4 linked regions of the Homo sapiens genome follow. The protein of the gene in region 2 interacts with the protein of the main gene of each other region in a pairwise test. Each region holds a gene or a part of one and is shown on either strand. Other genes may lie near its edges.

Region 1 (4,258 bases), on a different chromosome or scaffold from region 2:
CAAGCGATCCTCCTGCCTGGCCTCCCAAAGTGCTGAGATTACAGATATGTGCCACTGTGCCTGGCCAGTTTTTTGTTTTGTTTTGTTTTAAAGAATGCCTATCTTTGTGAACCCGGGAGGCGGAGCTTGCAGTGAGCCGAGATCGCGCCACTGCACTCCAGCCTGGGCGACAGAGCGAGACTTCATCTCAAAAAAAACAAAACAAAACAAAAAGAATGCCTATCTTTTAGAGAAAGGTACTGAATTGCTTATGGATGGAATGATATCTGAGATTGGGTCCAAAATAAATGATGGATGGCAGATACTGCCCATGAGTTGATAATTATTTAGACTGCATGACAGGTGCAGGAAGGATCATTATACTATTTTATGTAATTTTATATGCATTTGAAATTTTCTGGCCGGGTGCAGTGGCTCACTCCTGTAATCCCAGCACTTTGGGAGGCCAAGGTGGGAGGATCACTTGAGGTCAGGAGTTCGAAACCAGCCTGGCCAACATGGTGAAGCCCCATCTCTACTAAAAACACAAAAATTAGCCAGGCATGGTGGTGGGTGCCTATAATCCCAGCTACTCGGGAGGTTGGGACATGAGAATCGCTTGAACCTGGGAGGCGGAGGTTGTAGTTAGCTGACATCGAACCACTGCACTCTGTTGCCTGACAGAGTGAGACTCTGTCTCAAAAAAAAAAAAAAAAAAAAAAAAAGAAAAGAAATTTTCCATAATAAAACTTAAAAAACTGACGATCTGTGTTTCTTCTTCTTTTCCTTTTTCTTGGCTTTCTTTGCTCTCCTTTTGTTATCTTCATCTGCAAATTAAAGCACATTACAATTAAGAAAAAAATTTTTTAACTCTAAAACCGTAGTACTTTTGAGTAGGTAACTATCCTATTGCTGTCCCATTTATTGTTACAAAGAAATTACCTCATTGAAACATTTATTGCTATTTGTCACGAACTGTAGGGAGGTACTATGAACATAGAAATTAAAGTCACTAGGTTTTGATGATATAGGGTATTATTATTAATTTTATTGTGTGAGATAGTGTGGTGGCTAATTAGGAAAATGCCTCTTTTTACGGGATGCATACAGAAATATTTAGGGTGGAAGTGTGATGATATTTGTAATTAACTTTGACTATCTCAGTGAAAAACCCATATTTGAAGCAAATATGTAAAAATACCAACAACTGCCAAATCTAGGTGATTAAGTATATGGTATTAATTATACTATTCTCTTCGCTTTTCTGAATATTTAAATATTTTTGTGATAAAAAGGGAAAGAAAACTATGTGTGTGTTGGAGAGGGGAGAGAGAATCCTTTCCTGGAGCTCAGTCTAATGGAGGAGACAGATAGGTAAAGAGATCAATACAATCTGGAATGATAGAGGGAAGCTTGGGGAACCTGGACACACAGAGGAGTCTCAAAATCAGACTGATTTGAGGAGGGTGGCTGAGGAATGGTTGATCAGGAAAGGTGACTCTTAAAGTAGTTCTTTGATTACAAAAGTAATGCATGCCCATTGGTGCAATGAGTAAACCAAGCTGGATGGAGGGAGAGACTGGCATTGTAGGCAGAGGGCCTCTCTACCAAGTAACAAGAGAAAGAACATGGAATACTGAGGAGACAGAAAGTAGTTTTCAGATTACAGAGGATGTTGCAAGAGAGTGTAACAGGGTATATGTGATTAGAGAGAAATGAGTCAGGGTCTGAACTTTACCCTGAAGGCTATGGAGTGCTATTGAAGGATTTTAAGTAGGTATTTGGTGTATAGGGTATTATTACTAATTTTATTGTATGAGATAGTGTTGTAGTTAAGTATAAAAATGCCTCTTTTTAAGTGTTGCATACAGAAATATTTGAAAGTTCTGTCTTCGAGCACTGAGGAAGAGAAGTGACAGGGAGGGCCAGGAAACTTCGGCGATATCAGAGGAAGGTGAATCTTTGTGTAATGTGTTAACCTCAGAGGAGGCACCTTCTGGTCAATCATCAGCCAGGAGAGAGTACAAAAAGGAGACTCTTTGTGATGCACTACCCCAGATAGGGTGCCTTCCACAAATAGGCAGCCAGCATGAAGTAGGCACTTTATGGCATACCTTTTTGAAAACTGTAGAGGTGCTCATTGGGCATGAGAATTAAACAAAAGAGCCCTTCCACTGGGCCGATGCAGCCCTGTAAGGCTTACTTTGGTACAGCCCAACCCCCTGACTTGGTCTGGTGCCATGTGCCTTGTACACTTTGCACAACCAATCCCAATCCGGAGTCAGATTGCTTAGGTTTGAATCCAAACTGTGTGACCTTAGGGATAGTACTTATAACCTGCTCTGTCTCCATTTCCTCATCTATAAGATGTACCCTACAGTTATTGTATGGATTAAATGGCAATAATAAATATAAAGCACTTATTGGGGTACCTGGCACAAGGTTAGCAAGTGTTCAAAAACTCTTCAGTATTATTATTGTTTTCAGGAACCTTCTTCTAAAATAAGTTTTAAGAAGTAAAACTAGTTTTGAAGCAAGGCTTGCAGAATGCTGTTGGCGTTCTTACCACTGGAGTCTGTTTCAGAATCAGAGTCACTGTCGCTATCTTCAGAATACTTCTTATGTTTTCTTTTCGATGATTTTTTCTTTCTCCTTTTCTTGGACCTTTCTTTTGAACGGCTAGACTTCTTCTTTTTTTCTTCTAAGAAAGTACAAATTAAAAAATTATATTCTAAAAAACTATTTCTGAACATCAAAAGAAACAGACGATGGGCAATTTGAGTAAAAGCAAAGTCTAATGTTCAACTATTTACAAACTGATTTTTTTAAATCTCTCAATAAAATAGCTTGTATTTTAAAAATACCCTTTTTTTAAAAATACCTTCTGAAGTAGAAGCTGAAGTAGTGCTTTTCTTTGGCTCTTCATCCTCCACTGGTGTATGTTCATCAGAACTGAATTTAAATAAAATGGTTATAAGAATTAGGAAAGTGATGAGATATGGACCATGGAGTGTAAAGATATGAACTCCAAATTTTTCAGTAACAGCATCGATTGTCCAAGAACCATTAAAAGCAAGCATTGGAGATCCTAAGGCAGAACTTGGGAATCAAAAAAACCAAAACAACAACAAAGCAAGCACTGAACTACTTTCATAAACGTGCAGTTCAAGGGTCTACCATCTTTGTAATAATAAAATAACTTATCATTTGCATAACACTTTAGAGTTTACATAGTACTATTTAAACAAAGCAGCATGGAGGATTTATATTTTCACAAGAAACCACAGGGAAAAAGTAGAGAAACAGGAACCATAGGAAAGATTAAAGAAACTGGGTATAAGAAGGCTGAAGAAAGACTTTATAATTTTATTTTAAGCACGTAAAAGACAAATGGTAAAGCAGCAACTGTTCTGTCTCCTCAGAGCAAAAACCTAACAAACTACAGTCTAAAGAGATGTTGTTCTGTTGCAGAGAATTCTGAAAATGAGTATTATTCAAATTCTACAATAGTTTAGAAAAGGAGTTTCCACATCATATAATCTTTTCCTCTGAAGATCATACTTGGAGTAATTTAAATATTATCTAGAAAATTATTTTGGCTGGGTGCAGTGGCTCACGCCTGTAATCCCAGCACTTTGGGAGGCCGAGGTGGGCGGATCATGAGGTCAGGAGTTCAAGACCAGCCTGACCAACATGGTGAAACCCCATCTCTACTAAAAATACAAAAATTAGCCAGGCATGGTGGCATGCACCTGTAATCCCAGCTACTCGGGAGGCTGAGGCAGGAGAATCACTTGAACCTGGGAGGCGGAGGTTATGGTGAGCCAAGATCGCACCACTGCACTCCAGCTTGAGTGACAGAGTAAGACTCTGTCTCAAAAAAAAAAAAAAAAAAAAGAAGAAAGAAAACTATTTTTAGGGTTCCTTCCAACTCTAATTCAATACATTCAGGTTCTTCAAGTGTTTTCTTTTTTTTTTCTTTTAAATAGTCTTGTTATTTGCCCAGGCTGGTCTTGAACTCCCGGGCTCAAGGAATCCACCTGCCTTGGCCTCCCAAAGTGCTGTGATTACAGGCGTGAGCCACCGCACCTGGCCTCTTCAAGCATTTTCTAAAGGTATCTGTAAGAACAAGTTTCAGATAATAATGCTTTATTATCCAATCACAAATTACAGGTTTACCTGTCAAGCACATTGTCTCAACTCAACCTAAAGTTGGCACAGAAACAGAGAGGGAAGAAGAAACTTATGAGTAGCATCAAAGAGAAAAGAAATAAGCAAA
Region 2 (5,016 bases):
TTTACTTTGAAAAGCAAAATTAAAGAATATCCTTTCAGTCATGATTCCAGGACTGATCTCTGAAGTTCCTTTCAACTTTCAGAAAATGTGGTTGAATTCACTGATTCACTCACCTACACTTATTGAATGCCTCCTATGGGAGCAAGCACTATTAGGAATTAGAGATAACGAAGTAAACATGTCACACAGTCCCTTCCCTTACAGAAAATAAACAATTTATTCCAAGGATACTATGTATTTCTAAAGGAGAAGTGACAGGTATTATTGGAATATGTAAGAGGAACATAATCTTATTTGGAGAAGTGAGGAGAAGGGTGTCAGGAAGGGCCTTTCCAAGGAATTGAGCTAAGCAGAAACCTGAAGGATGACGTAGCTTTTGGGAAAGGGGTGATGGTGAGACAGATAAGATTCTGAACATTTTGCCAAGACAGTCTACCTAAATATCTTGTTCTCCTCATACCTGCCAAAGCAGACTGGTCCTTAAAGTCAGCTACTGATCTTTCTTATTTTTTCTCTCTATCCATTCATTCAGCTATCTAGTTCATCCATCTATTACTTATTTAACATTTTCTAAGACGGTAACCTAAAGCTATGAGAGTTGATGGGATTACACTGGGAGTACAGAGAGAAACTAGAGAAATCTAGGTAAGAGCCCCGAGGAACTCTAACAGCTAAATGTAAGACTGAGAAGGAACTTCAGTTAAAAGCAGCTAAGGAGGTCGGGTGTGATGACTCATGCTGGTAATCCCAGCACTTTGGGGGGCCAAGGTGAGAGAATTGCTTGAGGCCAGGAGTTTGAGACCAGTCTGGGAAACAGCAAGACCCTGTCTCTGCAACAACAACAACAACAAAATTAGCTGAGTATGGTAGTGCAGGCCTGTAGTCCCAGTTACCTGGGAGGCTGAGAAAGGAGGATCACATGGGCCTCCGAGGTTAAGCCTGCTGCAGTGAGCCAAGATCATGCCACTGTATTCCAGCACTCCAGCCTGGGGCCTGGGTGACAGAACAAGACCCTGTCTTACAAAAAAAAAAAAGCATTAGCTAAAGAGAGGCCAGAAAGATAGAAATAAAATTAAAGGAAGTTGTCAACAGTCCAAACGCAGCTGAGATGTTAAGCGTTTATTAATTACTCTTCAAGTCTGGTCCAAATTAAGGTGGTCTGGCAAGAAAGAATCAAATCAATGATAAAGCTAATTCTAGATGATCCCAGATAAGATATTAAAGAGTTCCACATGGTTTTCCTAAAAGTTTGCTAAAATTTTGTTATTTTCTGTTATATACCATAGAAGTTGGGGGTAAAAAAGCTATATTTCTAGAGACTTTGCTTTCAAAGGCATTCTAAATAGAGAATACATAAGAAAGAGATGTCTCAATTCCACCTTGCTTTGGTCTTCTATCCCTGAAGAATCTTCAAAGTCCTTTACTGATTATTATTTATGCTGAACATGAGCTAGTGGGGTGCTGGGGATATAGCAATGAACAAAGCAGGCAGAATCTCTGCCTCTTTGGCTTTTACATCGTCATATGTGTAATAATGGAAAGTGTCAGGAGCCATGACAGCATTACAAATGAGAGTCCTAATTTAGATTCAAGGTGGGGGATGAAATCAGGAAAGGATCCTTGGAAATGACATTTAAGAGCTTAGACCTGAAGGATGAGCTGGGATAGAACTGAGAGTTTTAGGAAGAGAAGACACAGCATCCATGTAACCCCTAAAATTGAAAGAGGCTTGACATTTTCCAGAAACTGAAAGGCTACATGGGGGGAGTGTGAACGTGAGGTACAGAGTGGTAAGAAACAAGCCTTGTATAGTACACAAGTTCTGGATCACAGAGAACCTTTTAGCTTTGTCCAGGATTTTGCTTATCAGCCTAAAAACAACAGGAAATCACTGATTTATGGAGAATGGATTAAGAGGAGGGAAGGTGGGATGGCAAGACAGAGGCGGAACCCGTAAGGAGAATATAACAGTAGCCTATAAGAGAAAATATAGTGGTTTGTAGTAGGGTGGAGAGAACTTGAGAAATATATACTCTGGGGGTAAAATTCACAGGACTTGGTGACAAATTAAACATAAATAATAAGGGGAAAGAAAGTATCAAGGATAATCCCCAGATTTCTGATATTAGTTTTTAGGTCAACATAGGTGTCATCTACTGACAGAACACTAAGGGAAAAATGTCTATAAGGAAGATCATGTGCATATGTACGCATAATACGAAGGGTCCAACCTTAGCCCTGAACCTGAGCATTCATCTACCTGATCTACTTTGATTGTACTGAGTAACATTTTATAAAGTAGAGACTAGTTCTTTCATTTGGAATACGCAGTGATTAACATGGTATCACAGTTGTGATAAGAATGAACATATAATACAATGAGGGCAACAAATTTCTTAAGTGACATATTAAATGTTTTACTAGCATATAAGGATAAATAAGTTTTTAAAACTCAAAACATATTTTTAACATTTATTGGTTAAAATTTACCTTAGAGTGGAAAATAATTAAGATAGAGACAAAAAAGGCATTCTGCTACAAATGCCATCTCTCAATAAGCAATAAAATAACAATATCTTCCTCTCACCATCTATCAATTTTACGAAGTCTAAAGGTTGGTGACACCATATACTTGAAGCTATGGGAGTAGACAGTATCACAAGGGCACACAGATTTAAACTCTGCTACATAATGAATATATTACCATGTGCAAGAAGAAGTAAATGCTTCTAAGCATGCAACATAGCTAATGATCTTCATAGCTGGAGCAAGAGAGCCCTCTCCTGTCCAAATATTATATTAACATTGGCTTGAATCTAATTCAATTACCTATCTAGATTAGTCTGATTCACTATAAATTACAGCCGATTGACTCTACTTTATTATGGGCTAAAAAAAGCAACTAGAAGTAACCTTCATAATAGCTAATATGTGCCAAGTACTATGCAAACTGCTTAATGAATTATCTCGTTTCAACTTCTGAACAATTCTAAAAGGAATCAAGACCATTTTACACATGAAGAAATTGAGTCTTAGCGAGCTTAAGGACTGCTAAAGAAAAAGCAGGCAGTTCTAAGTATAGGTGCACAGCACCATGCTAGGCTCTGAGAACACAGATATATGACAATCTTTCTCATTTCTAGAAACTCATAAACTAGTAAAAAAAGTCACACAGGCCATTATAAATAAAATCAGTGTTACAATTTTATATTGATTTATAGATTATAGACTGTTTAAAGGCACTGATCAAAGTCCCTTTCACATTCTTATTTGAGTTTCCACAATAAGCTTGACCAGTATGAAGGCCAGGTATGCACCTCACCCCTATACACATAAGAAAAATAAAGCAGTTCAGTGACTGATGCAAAGTAACAAGTCTGTAGGTGACAAAGCCAGGAATTAGAAAACTGTTGGCAATATTATACTATCTGCCAAAAATGAACTAAAATTAACCCTTAATTAATTTAGAGGAGTTCTTAAAACTCCTGTAAGTCACTTTAAGTTCATATCTAAATTCTCAGCCAGTTTCCTCTCAACTACCATAAAATGAAATTCTCAATGCATTCACCAATTAGATGAATGAAATATGGCAGATTATATTTCATGCTCACAAATGTGAGTAGATGCCTTATCTTAATTTCCTTTTACCTTTATCTTTTTTCTTGGAGGCCTCTTCTGCAGAAGATAATCTGGATTTTTTATGTGATGACTCTTCACAGTCTTTTTTGGTTTTATCTTTTCTTTTTTTTGACTTGATTTCTTTTCTCCTTTGTGTTAAACAATATAAAATTAAAGTTAACTTTTCCAACTGACCTTTTCAAAAATAACCATCATATGAACAAAAAACCAAAATCAGTTAAAATACTTATTTTTTAAATGTGATTTATATAATAAGGAACGTTAAGTGAGACTGTAAATATTTTATGCTTGTATATTAATTAAAATCATTCTATAAGATAATGAAGTCTTAACACTGACACAAATAATTACTTTCTATAAGTTCTGTATACGACCATAGTAAATACAAATTATAATTGTATTTGTTTCTTTCTTTCTATATTCTATCACTTAGCCATTTAAAACTAAATTACAAAAAAAAGCCTCATTTCCCTTCACATAATCCATATCCACCTACATGTTAAAAAAACACAAAGAAGAAGAAACTGCTGAACAGCTCTAAGCCACCAGTAAATAGAAATTTCTACTCTTAAGAATAAAGGAATATAGTAGAAGCATAATGGAATGAAAATGGAAAGGGCTTATTGTTAATTCATATATCAACATCAGGCCACTTATAATTTATACTCTTATTGTTGCAGCTTTATCTCTTCTAGAGCAGGTTTACAAGGTTGGCAAACAATTAATTAATTTTAATAGGTTAAGAAAAGAAATACTAAATGGGAAAAAGTGATAATGCTGAAATTGGGACTGGCAAGGAGAATAGAGACAAAGGAAAAGATTACTTTCAAAAAACTTGTTCAGTAGATTTTCCAAGTTAAAGTACATCTACTAAATGCTATAATAGTATTTAATGCATTAACCACTTTTGCATATTTTGTAAGAATCATTTCCATTTTGAAATGAAGCTCAAAAGTCAAGGTCAAAACAAATCCCTGCTTTCTTTCAGTATCACTGATGGGAAGGGGAAATAAAGGTTTAGGCTATTCCAGTAATCCAAAAAAGTTCTGGCCAAGTGTGGAGGCTTATGCCTATCATCCCAGCACCTTGGGCGGCTGAGGCAGGAGGACTGCTTGAGTCCAGGAGTTTGAGACCAGCCTGGGCAACATAGGGAAACACCATCTCTACAAAAACTTTAAAAAAAAATTATCCAGGTTTGGTGATGTACTCCTGTAGTCTCAGCTATTCTGGAGGCTGAGGTGTGAGGATCACTTGAGCCCAGGAGGCTGAGGCTGCAATGAGCCATGATCACACCACTGTGCTTCAGCCTAGGCAACAGAGTGAGACCTTGTCTCAAAAAAATAAAGAATAATGAAAATAATAAAAATAATCCTGCTA
Region 3 (4,987 bases), on a different chromosome or scaffold from region 2:
ACCTTGTGGAGGCTGTGCAGATGCAGGGGCTGTCTACAAAGCCGCAGGAGCAGGGCCAGGACCTAGAGGAAGAGAGCAGTGGGACTTATGGGGTGCCAAGAGGGGAGCAAGGTTACTGAGGTGGGCTTCCCAGGCTGGTACTTCCCTCCTACCCAAGAATTAGCCCCCTCCCTCAGTGGCCAGGATGAGAATAGGGAGCTAAAACTAAGCAGGAAGGAAGGCTGAGGTGGGGTTAGGCCAGCGGCCTCCGGACCCACCAATAGCAAGGATGCATATGTGACCAGTAGAGAGATGACCAGCAGGAATGCCAGGGACCAGTCCATCCAGTGTCCCCAGCGGCGGAAGAGGAATCTGTGGGAGGGGAGAGGGAGGTGTCCAAGTGGGGGAAGGGGTGTCAATAGTGGCCTGAGGGGAGGTGGGGTGGGTGGATCCAGGAAGACTAGAAGGGAGTGAGGAGAAAGCCCCTCGTGGCCAGGGGCTCCAAGGATTGAGGAGATTTTGTGGAGGGATTTTCTAAGGAGATTGGGTAGCAGCAGAGCTGGGTTTGAGCAGCTGGGCAGGGCTGGGGGATGACTGACAGTGGGCCACCCCCGGGTCCCAGGGTGGGGAGCAGGTTGACAGGTATGCTGGGGAAGCAGGGGGAATCCATGACACACTCATTGAAGTTGTGCAGGTCATTGAGAAGGACGAGCCCGATGTACAGCCAGCTCAGGGAAAGGAGGAAGGTGAGGAAGAGCAGGCCAAACCAGATACAGTCGCACTGCAAAGGGGCAGGAGAGAAACTCACAACCAATACCTACTTCAAACTCAGAGTCCCCAACGGGTGGCAGCTAAAGGGAGCTGCCTGCCCCGTGTTGGGCTGCTCTGCTCGGGGGGCAGCTCTTTCCATATTTGAGGGAGATTTTCTTCCTGGGAGAGAGAGCCCCTTCCCCCAAGCTGTCTATGAGCACAATTGGCCTCCTTATCCCCTCCAGTGAGCCTCTGCCTTCTGACTTCCAGCCTCCCCCCTCCATCCCTACTCCACCTTGCTGGTTTGCATCCTCTCTCTGGGGCATTTCCTCCAGTGGCAGCTATACAGGCAGTGGAGGCAGCGGGCCCAGACGGAGCAGCAGCCGGGGGACTCGGCCATGGTGAAGGCCTGGGGGAAGGGACACTCGACCATCAGGGACCCTGGCAGAGGGCAGATCCCAGTCTCCCTCCTAGTGTATCTGAGGAGCCCGGGGGAGAGGCAGAGGCCTGGGCCGCTGCTCAGCAACGGAGGTCACGGGGCAGGCCCAGAGTGCCAGAGTGGATGAGGCGAGCAGCCCCAGCTGCAAGCCTGGCAATGGGAGACAGTCTCCAGAGCCTTCGTTTCCCTTTAATCTTGTTACCTGGAGAGTCAGTGGGACACCCAAGAGGTCCAGCCTCTTTTCGGGCAGGATTCATATCCACTCTCTCCAGCTCCTCCCCATTTAACAGCACACACCTCTGGGGATGGAGTGCTTGCCCTGGGGGTAAGAACTCAAGAGAAACTGCCCAGGGTGGGACAAACTCAGTTCAGCAAGTTAAAGCAGGTTTGGCCAAGCTGGAGGCAACCCCATGTTGAATTGCTTTCCAGCCCAGGAAGCAGGAGTAACCTGAAGCAAAGGTTACAGTTCTGACCTGGGGCTAAGGAAGGCCCAGCTAGTTGGCCAGTTGCTATGGTTATAGAGATTATTCAGATCACAAATCCCTGAAAGATTCTCTGTGTCCACCTCTCAGGGGACAAAGGGCACTGCCAAAAAGAGAAAGACTTGAGGTGAACATGTTGCCTGGGTCACTCCCAGTCTTCTAAAGGAATCTTTGGATTTTCAAAATACAGAGCCTCCCCTCAAGTCCTGCCCTTTCCTGCCCAGTCATCCCCCAACCCCAACCAGAAGCCCAGACTCGCCTTTAGGAGCCCCACCCTCTAAGTTAGCTTTGGTGAAAGTACAACAAACGCAGGGCAAAGGTGTGTATGCGGGGTGTGGTTGTCTTGGGGCAGGGGACCCCTGTACCTTATGCTTCTGGGTTTGGCTGACTGAGCTGATCCCCAGACTTGGCTGGGTACGTGACTGATTCTACGCGAGACGGTATGTGATTTGTGTCAGCATTTGCACGCGACAGCACAACTGGCTGTCGGTACAATATGATTTTAGGTGACTTTGAGTATGTAAAGGAGCCCCTGGATACACCCAAAGTGTGTGAGCATGTGTGCGTGCGGGCTGAGGGACAGGACCTCTTGTCCTCAGAGCTCTCCCGAGGCTATGGAGTCTTAGAGGGGTGCACAGTGGGTGGGTCCGGTAAGCAGGAAGGTGTGGCTGCTTCTGAACTGCCCTCTTTATGCTGCCTTGGGAAAGGAGGGTTAGGGTAGGGGTGAGGAGCTGGAGCTGGGGGAAGGAAACCCCTCCCCTCTACGAGACCCTTCCCGGTAAAAAGCCAACCCAAAGGGAAGCCCTTGCCTCTGCCCATCTTGGAGCTGGTTTGATAGCCTGCTCTAAGCTCTTGCCTCCCCTGGGGTCCTACCCCTGCACCCCAGACACTGCCTTCCAGAGTCCCCTCCCTTCAGGAGCTGCCTGTAGGATGGGATCAGGGTCTGAGCAGCCTGAAAACCCCAAGTAGGGTTGCTGACAGGGGTGCCATTCAATCCCCCGGCCCAATCCCAGTGGGATGGAGCTGGTCTCTGCTCCACAGCTCCCACCTGTAGCCCCCCAGCCTTCCCGAACCCTCACACCTTTGCTCAGCGGCAGCTCCGCTCCGCTCTCCTCTCTGCACTGCTTCCCAGCTCCTCTCCGAGTGGTCTGCCTCCTCCCTTTTTCAGTCCTCGGTTCAGCCCTATGAGTCAAACAGGTGGCACTGTTGCCACCTACAGGAGGCTGTGTGGGTCCTCTCCCAAGGCCTGCAGCTGCTCTGTGGCCTGGGCACAGCCCGGGTGGGAAGATGGGAGGGAGGAAGCGGGAGGGAGAGCAAATCTGCTTCTTTACTCGCTGGCGGTCAGGGGGCTTGGGGTGAGGAATTCCTTTGTGCAGGCTTTCCCATCCCTCTGTCCCTCCTCCTGTTCCCCTCCCAGTCACTGCCGGGGCTTTGTCCTGGCTCAGGGAGGCGAGGGCTGAGGGCACAGGCTGGCGGGAAGCTGGTGTGTGTGGGGGGGGGAGGTGACCACACAACTTTGCAACTTGGCAGTGAGGAGAAGAGGCCCAGCCAGCCCACTGGAAAGGCGTGTGTGTGTGTGTGTGTGTGCGTGTGTGTAAGCCTAACATCAAGTCTCAAGCTCCCTGGAAATACAGCCTTGATTCATTAGGCTCCCTCCCCTATTGAGCTCCTACTTCTAATTCAGCAAGGTGCATGTATAAGAAGCTGCAGCCTGGCGCGGTGTCTTACACCTGTAACCCCAACACTTTGGGAGGCCGAGGCGGGTGGATCACCTGAGGTCAGGAGTTCAAGACCAGCCTGGCCAACATGGTGAAACCCTGTCTCTACAAAAAATACAAAAATTAGCCAGGCATGATGGTGTGCACCTACCAAAGACTAGGTAGTTGCATGGGACATCTCACAAGGCCAGGTTTAAAGCAAAGACAAGCCTTGGTCATTTGTCCCAGCTACTTGGGAGGCTGATGTGGGAGGATTGCTTGAGCCCAGGACGTCGAGGCTGCAGTGAGTTGAGATTGTGCTACTGTGCTCCAGCCTGGGCAACAGAAGCTGCAAGCTACTTCCTGAACTCTGGATAGCAAGTTGCCGTTTCTGGACCAGAGGTCCCCATGGGCCTTGTGGATCCTGGGTGACACTAGCAGTTCTCCCACCTTCCCTCATCACCCCAGACAGGAGATGCTCATTCAGGACTTGTGTCATTTCTGCTGCCTTGTCCCTAAGGCATATGAGTCTCTTTCCAAGAATCTTTTGAGGAGTGTAGAGTATATTGGGGTCACAGGCTTTTGGAAGATGAACACATAGAAAAGATGCTGTTACTATAGCATCAGCATCAGCAGGGAAGGGCTGGCTAGCACACTATAGTTTGCTTAGTGCTAAAGCACAGGGGTCTGGGTGGGATGGGGGCCAGGGGCTGGCTTGGTTGACCTCTCCCTCTACATTACGCCTGATGTGGTGACTCGAGGTCTGGGGGCTATTAGTGCAGTGTTGGTGGGAAAGGATGTTTTCTCTGGGGATAAGCCTGCTTACCCCTCCCCCAACACACACTGGATTTCAAACAGTGAGAAGGAAGACTGGCTCTCTTATGCCAAGAGCTGGCCCCCCTCCCACTCAGGCTTCCCATTGTATCCAGAGGCTCTAGTTGGCAATGGCAGAGGCTCCCTTGCTCCCTCGGCATTAAAATGCAAAGAGAAGCAGGGCTGCTTGCTGGCAGGAGGCCAGGGAGGACCAGCAGGTCACCTAGTCCATGGCAGGCTTCATTCTAGGCAGATTGTTGCTCAATTTCTTTTGCTTGGGCTCTGGTGGATTCTAGAGGAGTCTTGGCTTTTGAGTGTTTGGGGATGGTTTGGGAGCTTTTTTGGGGAGAAGGGTTTTGGGATTCAGAATGCATGGATATGAAGCGCAGGGCTTGTGAGCATCTACCTCAGAAGGCTACAAGGCCAGTCAGCAGCTTGTGTATGGCATTCCAGGGCTGGCCCCCTTTTAGCTTTAAGCAGAGATAGAGAACACTGATAGACTGTAAGGCGTAAGCATCTTTCAAAGGAGAATGCAAGGAGCCAGTGCTGTTCTGTCCTGGGACTGGACAGCAGTGTGGTGCAACGCCCCTCCTACACTAAGAAATTAGGCTGCAGGGCATTAGAAGTGGCTGCTGCTGGCACTCTAGAGAGTTGGCTAGAGTGAAGCTTGGATGGTAGCTCTGCGTTCAGGTCCTAGCTCTATTGCTCACTAGCTTTGTGACTTTGGGTAAGTTACTTCTTTATACCCCAGTTTCCTCATCTGCAAAATAAGGACATCTATCTATGTTGACCTTTTTGTGTGTGTATGAAGAACAAATAAAACTGTA
Region 4 (4,258 bases), on a different chromosome or scaffold from region 2:
GGGCTGAGATGGCTGATGCCCACACACATTCCACTGCCTGCCCAGCACTACTAGCAAGAGCAAGGGCATCTCTGCGTTGGCACGTGACAGGCTGCTCTCTGATCCCCAGCCGTGTAGTTTCTCACAGTAAACAGCAGGGTCGGCTCGGGTGATGGCGGGGATAAGAGGCCAAGGCTCCCGTCCACGCCCGACCCGTGGATCGCCCCCTTGGGCCGGCCATCGGCTTCCCAGCAGATGCACACTCTGCTTCCTCTGCCCTCAAAGCCAAATGTTGCACCCCTAAGGCGTCACTTTCTAAAGAAGAAACTCTAGGTTTTAGGAAAATCTTGGTTTTTATAGGATTTGAAAGACTGAAACTCCATCAGAGAGGCCAGGGATTAAGGCCCTCCTGCTGAGGGTCTGGGCTGCTCAGCGTTACCGTGTTCCCACCCAATCCTTCTTCAAAAGACAAATAGAATGAACGATTCCTAGCTCCTTTAGTTCTGGAAAAGGAGAACAGGCTTTGTAGCAGAACTCCCAGCAGAAAGGCCCTACTGGGAGGAAGCCTGGGTGGGAAGGACTGACTACTGGGGCAGCGCTTCCAGGTGGTCCCTGGGCTCAGAACCCCCAGGGCTGGAGTCAGTGAGCCACCGAGGCAAGACCGCAGGAGGCAGGAGCCTGTTTGTGAAGATCAGCAGGACGGACAGGAGAGCTGGTAATGGTTGCCACAGAGAGGGAGGGCCAACCCCACCAAGAGCTCTGACTCAGATGCCGGGAACTGCCCCCCGGTCGGGCTTTGGGAGCCACGTGAAAGGAGCTGGGGGGCTTTCTAAAAGGATTAAAAGGCTGGGGCTAGCACAGGACTTGGATGATGTATGCTGTTTTCCAGAAACATAGTGTCCCTGCTCCTCCCAAATCACAAAGAGCCCCAGACTCCAGGGCTGTGAGGCATGTTCCTGCCTGGGGACAGAGCAAAGTGCCAGCAGAGGCCACATGCTGACTCCCTGAGCAGCATGCATATGCCAGCGGAGAGGGGGAGGAGGGGTTGCAAAGACAGAGGACAAGCCCAGGGCACTAGGGGAAGCAGAGACCAAGACACGCTCCCAGCTGAGTGCCCTGAATTCCCTCTTGACAGCGCTGGCAACCGACCAAAGCCCATTAAAACACACCACAAATATGATTTCCAAAGAAGAACTGTTCCCTGGACGTCTCACCCGGGCATCCTAGGAAATGCCAAAGCCCTGAGAGGGAGCCAAAGGGACAACAGTGCTCACAGCAGACAGAAGCCCTGTGGGGCGGCAGGCCTGGCATGGCTGGAAGCCAGGCTGCTAGGAGCAAGGCTGAGAAACGTGCCCCCAGGATCCCCCAATACTCACCCACGAGTTCCTGGGGGTCTCGCTTTTCTGCTTCTGTATTATCCTGCAAAAGACAAACAAATACGAGGAGGTAAGACTGGGGCTCCTGAACCAGCTACTCTCTACTGAGACCACTCAGGATTTTTAAGGAAGGAGAAAAAGTAAAAGCACTGCCAGGAACACTAAGGGTAAGCTGATGCTTCAGGGGCCTCTGGCACCCCCGAGCCTCCGAACCCTCTTCTTCCCGCATCGCAGCAGCCGGATGCTCCCGAGCCCCACGCCGGTCTCTCCTCCATGCCTTTTCAGTGACCAAACCCACCATCGCTGAGGAGAACACAAGCCAGCAAGCCTGCTGCAGCCAACTGGGCAACGTATACCCTGCCTGTTGCTCTCCCCTGGGTCTGAGGAAGCTTGCCTGAATGGAGTGCAGAGCTCAAGGGCCCGGCCAGCCCAGACATCACCACCTCTACCGCTGGTACCAAGGAAGCAAGAGGTGACTGCTTTGTAACAGCAGACTCCCGAGATGAAAATGCAGACTAGCTGCTCCCAAGATACTCTTCTTATTTTTAGTTCAAAGAAGGGAGGCTTCATCATGAGGATAAAGGGGCAGCTCATGGAACCTCAGAGCAAGCATGCAGCAAACCTTTAATAAGTGGCAGAATGGGGATCCCAGAGAGGCCCCAGGCTCAAGGAAGCCTCTCTCTGGCTCTCAGCTCCCTTTACACTGGCTTTATACTCCCTCCAAAGAAAAGCTTCCTCCAATCCCTAATGCAAACAGTGTCCCATGACAGCTACATCCACATGTCCTGCAGAAACCTGAGAGCAAAGGCTTCTTAGACGTTTTCTGGATTTCACTGTTCTGTAGTAAATGTTTCATCTAAACCAAAATCAATGCTGAGAAAGCCACGGTCCAAGCCCTCCGTCACAAGTCTTCCCTTGCCTCCATTGTCTCAAGTGTAAAATGGCAAGAACACACCTGTTTCCCCCATTTCTGGGTTGCTGACACCCAGCCCCTCAAAGCCAGTTAGATCAACAATCTCAAGGGCCACACGTGCTCATCATCAAAACAGCAGAGGCAGAGTTCACAGAAAGTTGCTGGACGCCATGTCTTTTCCTGCTGATGAGTGAGGGAGGAGATGAGACAGGAAGACCCTGCAACAAGACCTTTTCGAGGACAGGTGCAGAGCTCCGCAGGCTCCACTTACACAGACATGGCACACCACGCCACGGCTCCAAAAGGAAGGTGCCAGGAAGGCCACCCAGTTCCCCACACTGAACCTAGACTCAGTCTTAGCCCCCTTTCCAGAAAGTCCCTCCTGATGCTGGGACAGGCCAAATTCCCCATTCCTCAGAACACTGCAGCTATTCATTCAACCTGGCAGGGCACCACGTCCAGGCCAGGCTGCTTAGCAACCCATCTCTTCGAGCCACTGCCCCCTGCCAATCAGGTGGGCAAAGAGGAGGCTGGGAGCAGGCAGGGAGGCGCGCCTGGAGGACTGCCACACCAACTTCAGGTTGCAGTCATAAATCAGCGGCTCTATAGAGACTGCCGCAGTCATAAATCAGCAGCCCTATAGAGACTGCCAGTCTCTCAGGGGACCAACAATCCCTTTGTAGCAGTGACTCTCAGGAAACCAGTGTTCAAGAGTGTTAGTAACAATACATGGGACTGTAAAATGCCCTCACATTTTCCCTCTAGAGAACAGCTTTCTGGGTGCTGATTGTAGGAAAACATCAGCTCCTCCCTCACCCGCCAGCTGGCTGATCATACAGGGACTGACCATTCGTTAACTCTCCCTCCAGCCCCCACTCACCCTTCCCCAAGGCTCCGCACCATACCACACCCACCCCTTCTCATGGACTCAACTGCAGAGGCCCAATCCCCACACAAGGAGTCTACCATGTCTACCCCAAAGCCACAGGAAGTTAGTCACCAAACATGCAATGGCTCTTCAAGGGGAAACACACTTGCCACTTCAGGGCCTCCTTAGGTAAAGTAAGAGGCCAGGAGCCTCCCCGTGGCTTCTTGTGGCTTTTGTGAACCTGGAGATGGAAAGGAGTGTGGGGTGTGTGTGCTGCCAGGCTCAGCTGAGGTTGTTGAGTCACGTCTCTGGAAGAAAAGAGATGATGGGGCAAAATCACAGGAAGTATTTTATCCCTTTATTTTATTTTTTTCCTTTAGGTTGGCTCTTCAGTTCCCCCTAAATTATTCCTTCTACGCCTAAGAAATAAATAAACTGGGTAGTTGGGTTCCAATTTGCCAACTAGTCTGGTCTTTGCTTTTCTACCCTCTTAGTACAAAAAAAGGGCATGGCATGCCCAGAGTACACCCTCAACTCGCAACAAGAGGACTCTCATTCAGTCCTGAACCTGAGGCCCACAAACAAGGCCCACCCAGCTTCCCAGCAGCAGAATCCAGCTCCATGAGCCTTCCCACCCTCAGTGCCTCTGAACAAAGTACTGACCAATGGACCACAGACCCAACTCCAAGTTCAAGAAGATTCTCCTGCCTTACGAGGACCCATTAAACCAAATGCATGAAGTAGCCTGGCCAGCTCAGAAGCCATATAAGCGTGCACGCTCAGGAGGAGGCCAGCGCTGCTGCACTAGGGTCTCCTAAGAAGACTGTGCTGTCTGTGTTGGTTCAGATTCCCATTGGTGTCATAGGCACCCTTGGGACCTACAAGGCTCTGGAGAATCAATCTGGGAATCTGCCTCCTGCTGGCTATACCTTATCATGTTTAGAATGTGATTCTTCTGCCCTCTGAGTCCAACAAGCTGGGCCATGAGCTTGCTGAGCCCTGGGTGCCTCTGTCACTGTGCCGAGCTTCTCCTAAAGAAGAAAGACAACAACCTAAGTTCTCTGGATCCTAAAGTGCTCGCTTGGTCAGGCGCAGTGGCTCACGCCTGTAATCCCAGCACTT

The links. Proteins that work in one complex are often made in the same cells at the same time.
Region 1: the proteins of FRA10AC1 (region 2) and NKAP interact in a two-hybrid assay, tested with the Homo sapiens proteins (one large-scale study listed by BioGRID and IntAct).
Region 3: the proteins of FRA10AC1 (region 2) and GDPD2 interact in a two-hybrid assay, tested with the Homo sapiens proteins (one large-scale study listed by BioGRID and IntAct).
Region 4: the proteins of FRA10AC1 (region 2) and SAP30BP interact in a two-hybrid assay, tested with the Homo sapiens proteins (one large-scale study listed by BioGRID and IntAct).

Annotation. Positions count from the first base shown.
Region 1 is NC_000023.11:119,933,752-119,938,009, forward strand, and holds part of NKAP (NF-kappa-B-activating protein), read right to left. Parts: intron 2,932-4,258; coding exon 2,861-2,931; intron 2,681-2,860; coding exon 2,546-2,680; intron 807-2,545; coding exon 743-806; intron 1-742. UniProt on the Homo sapiens protein: Acts as a transcriptional repressor. Plays a role as a transcriptional corepressor of the Notch-mediated signaling required for T-cell development. Also involved in the TNF and IL-1 induced NF-kappa-B activation.
Region 2 is NC_000010.11:93,677,832-93,682,847, forward strand, and holds part of FRA10AC1 (protein FRA10AC1), read right to left. Parts: intron 3,768-5,016; coding exon 3,649-3,767; intron 1-3,648. UniProt on the Homo sapiens protein: May be involved in pre-mRNA splicing.
Region 3 is NC_000023.11:70,421,127-70,426,113, reverse strand, and holds the start of GDPD2 (glycerophosphoinositol inositolphosphodiesterase GDPD2), read right to left. Parts: upstream 2,801-4,987; 5' UTR 2,732-2,800; intron 1,139-2,731; 5' UTR 1,130-1,138; coding exon 1,025-1,129; intron 761-1,024; coding exon 657-760; intron 352-656; coding exon 258-351; intron 63-257; coding exon 3-62; intron 1-2. UniProt on the Homo sapiens protein: Has glycerophosphoinositol inositolphosphodiesterase activity and specifically hydrolyzes glycerophosphoinositol, with no activity for other substrates such as glycerophosphoinositol 4-phosphate, glycerophosphocholine, glycerophosphoethanolamine, and glycerophosphoserine.
Region 4 is NC_000017.11:75,690,580-75,694,837, reverse strand, and holds part of SAP30BP (SAP30-binding protein), read right to left. Parts: intron 4,168-4,258; coding exon of another isoform or gene 4,066-4,167; intron 3,445-4,065; coding exon of another isoform or gene 3,303-3,444; intron 1,399-3,302; coding exon 1,356-1,398; intron 1-1,355. UniProt on the Homo sapiens protein: Plays a role in transcriptional repression by promoting histone deacetylase activity, leading to deacetylation of histone H3.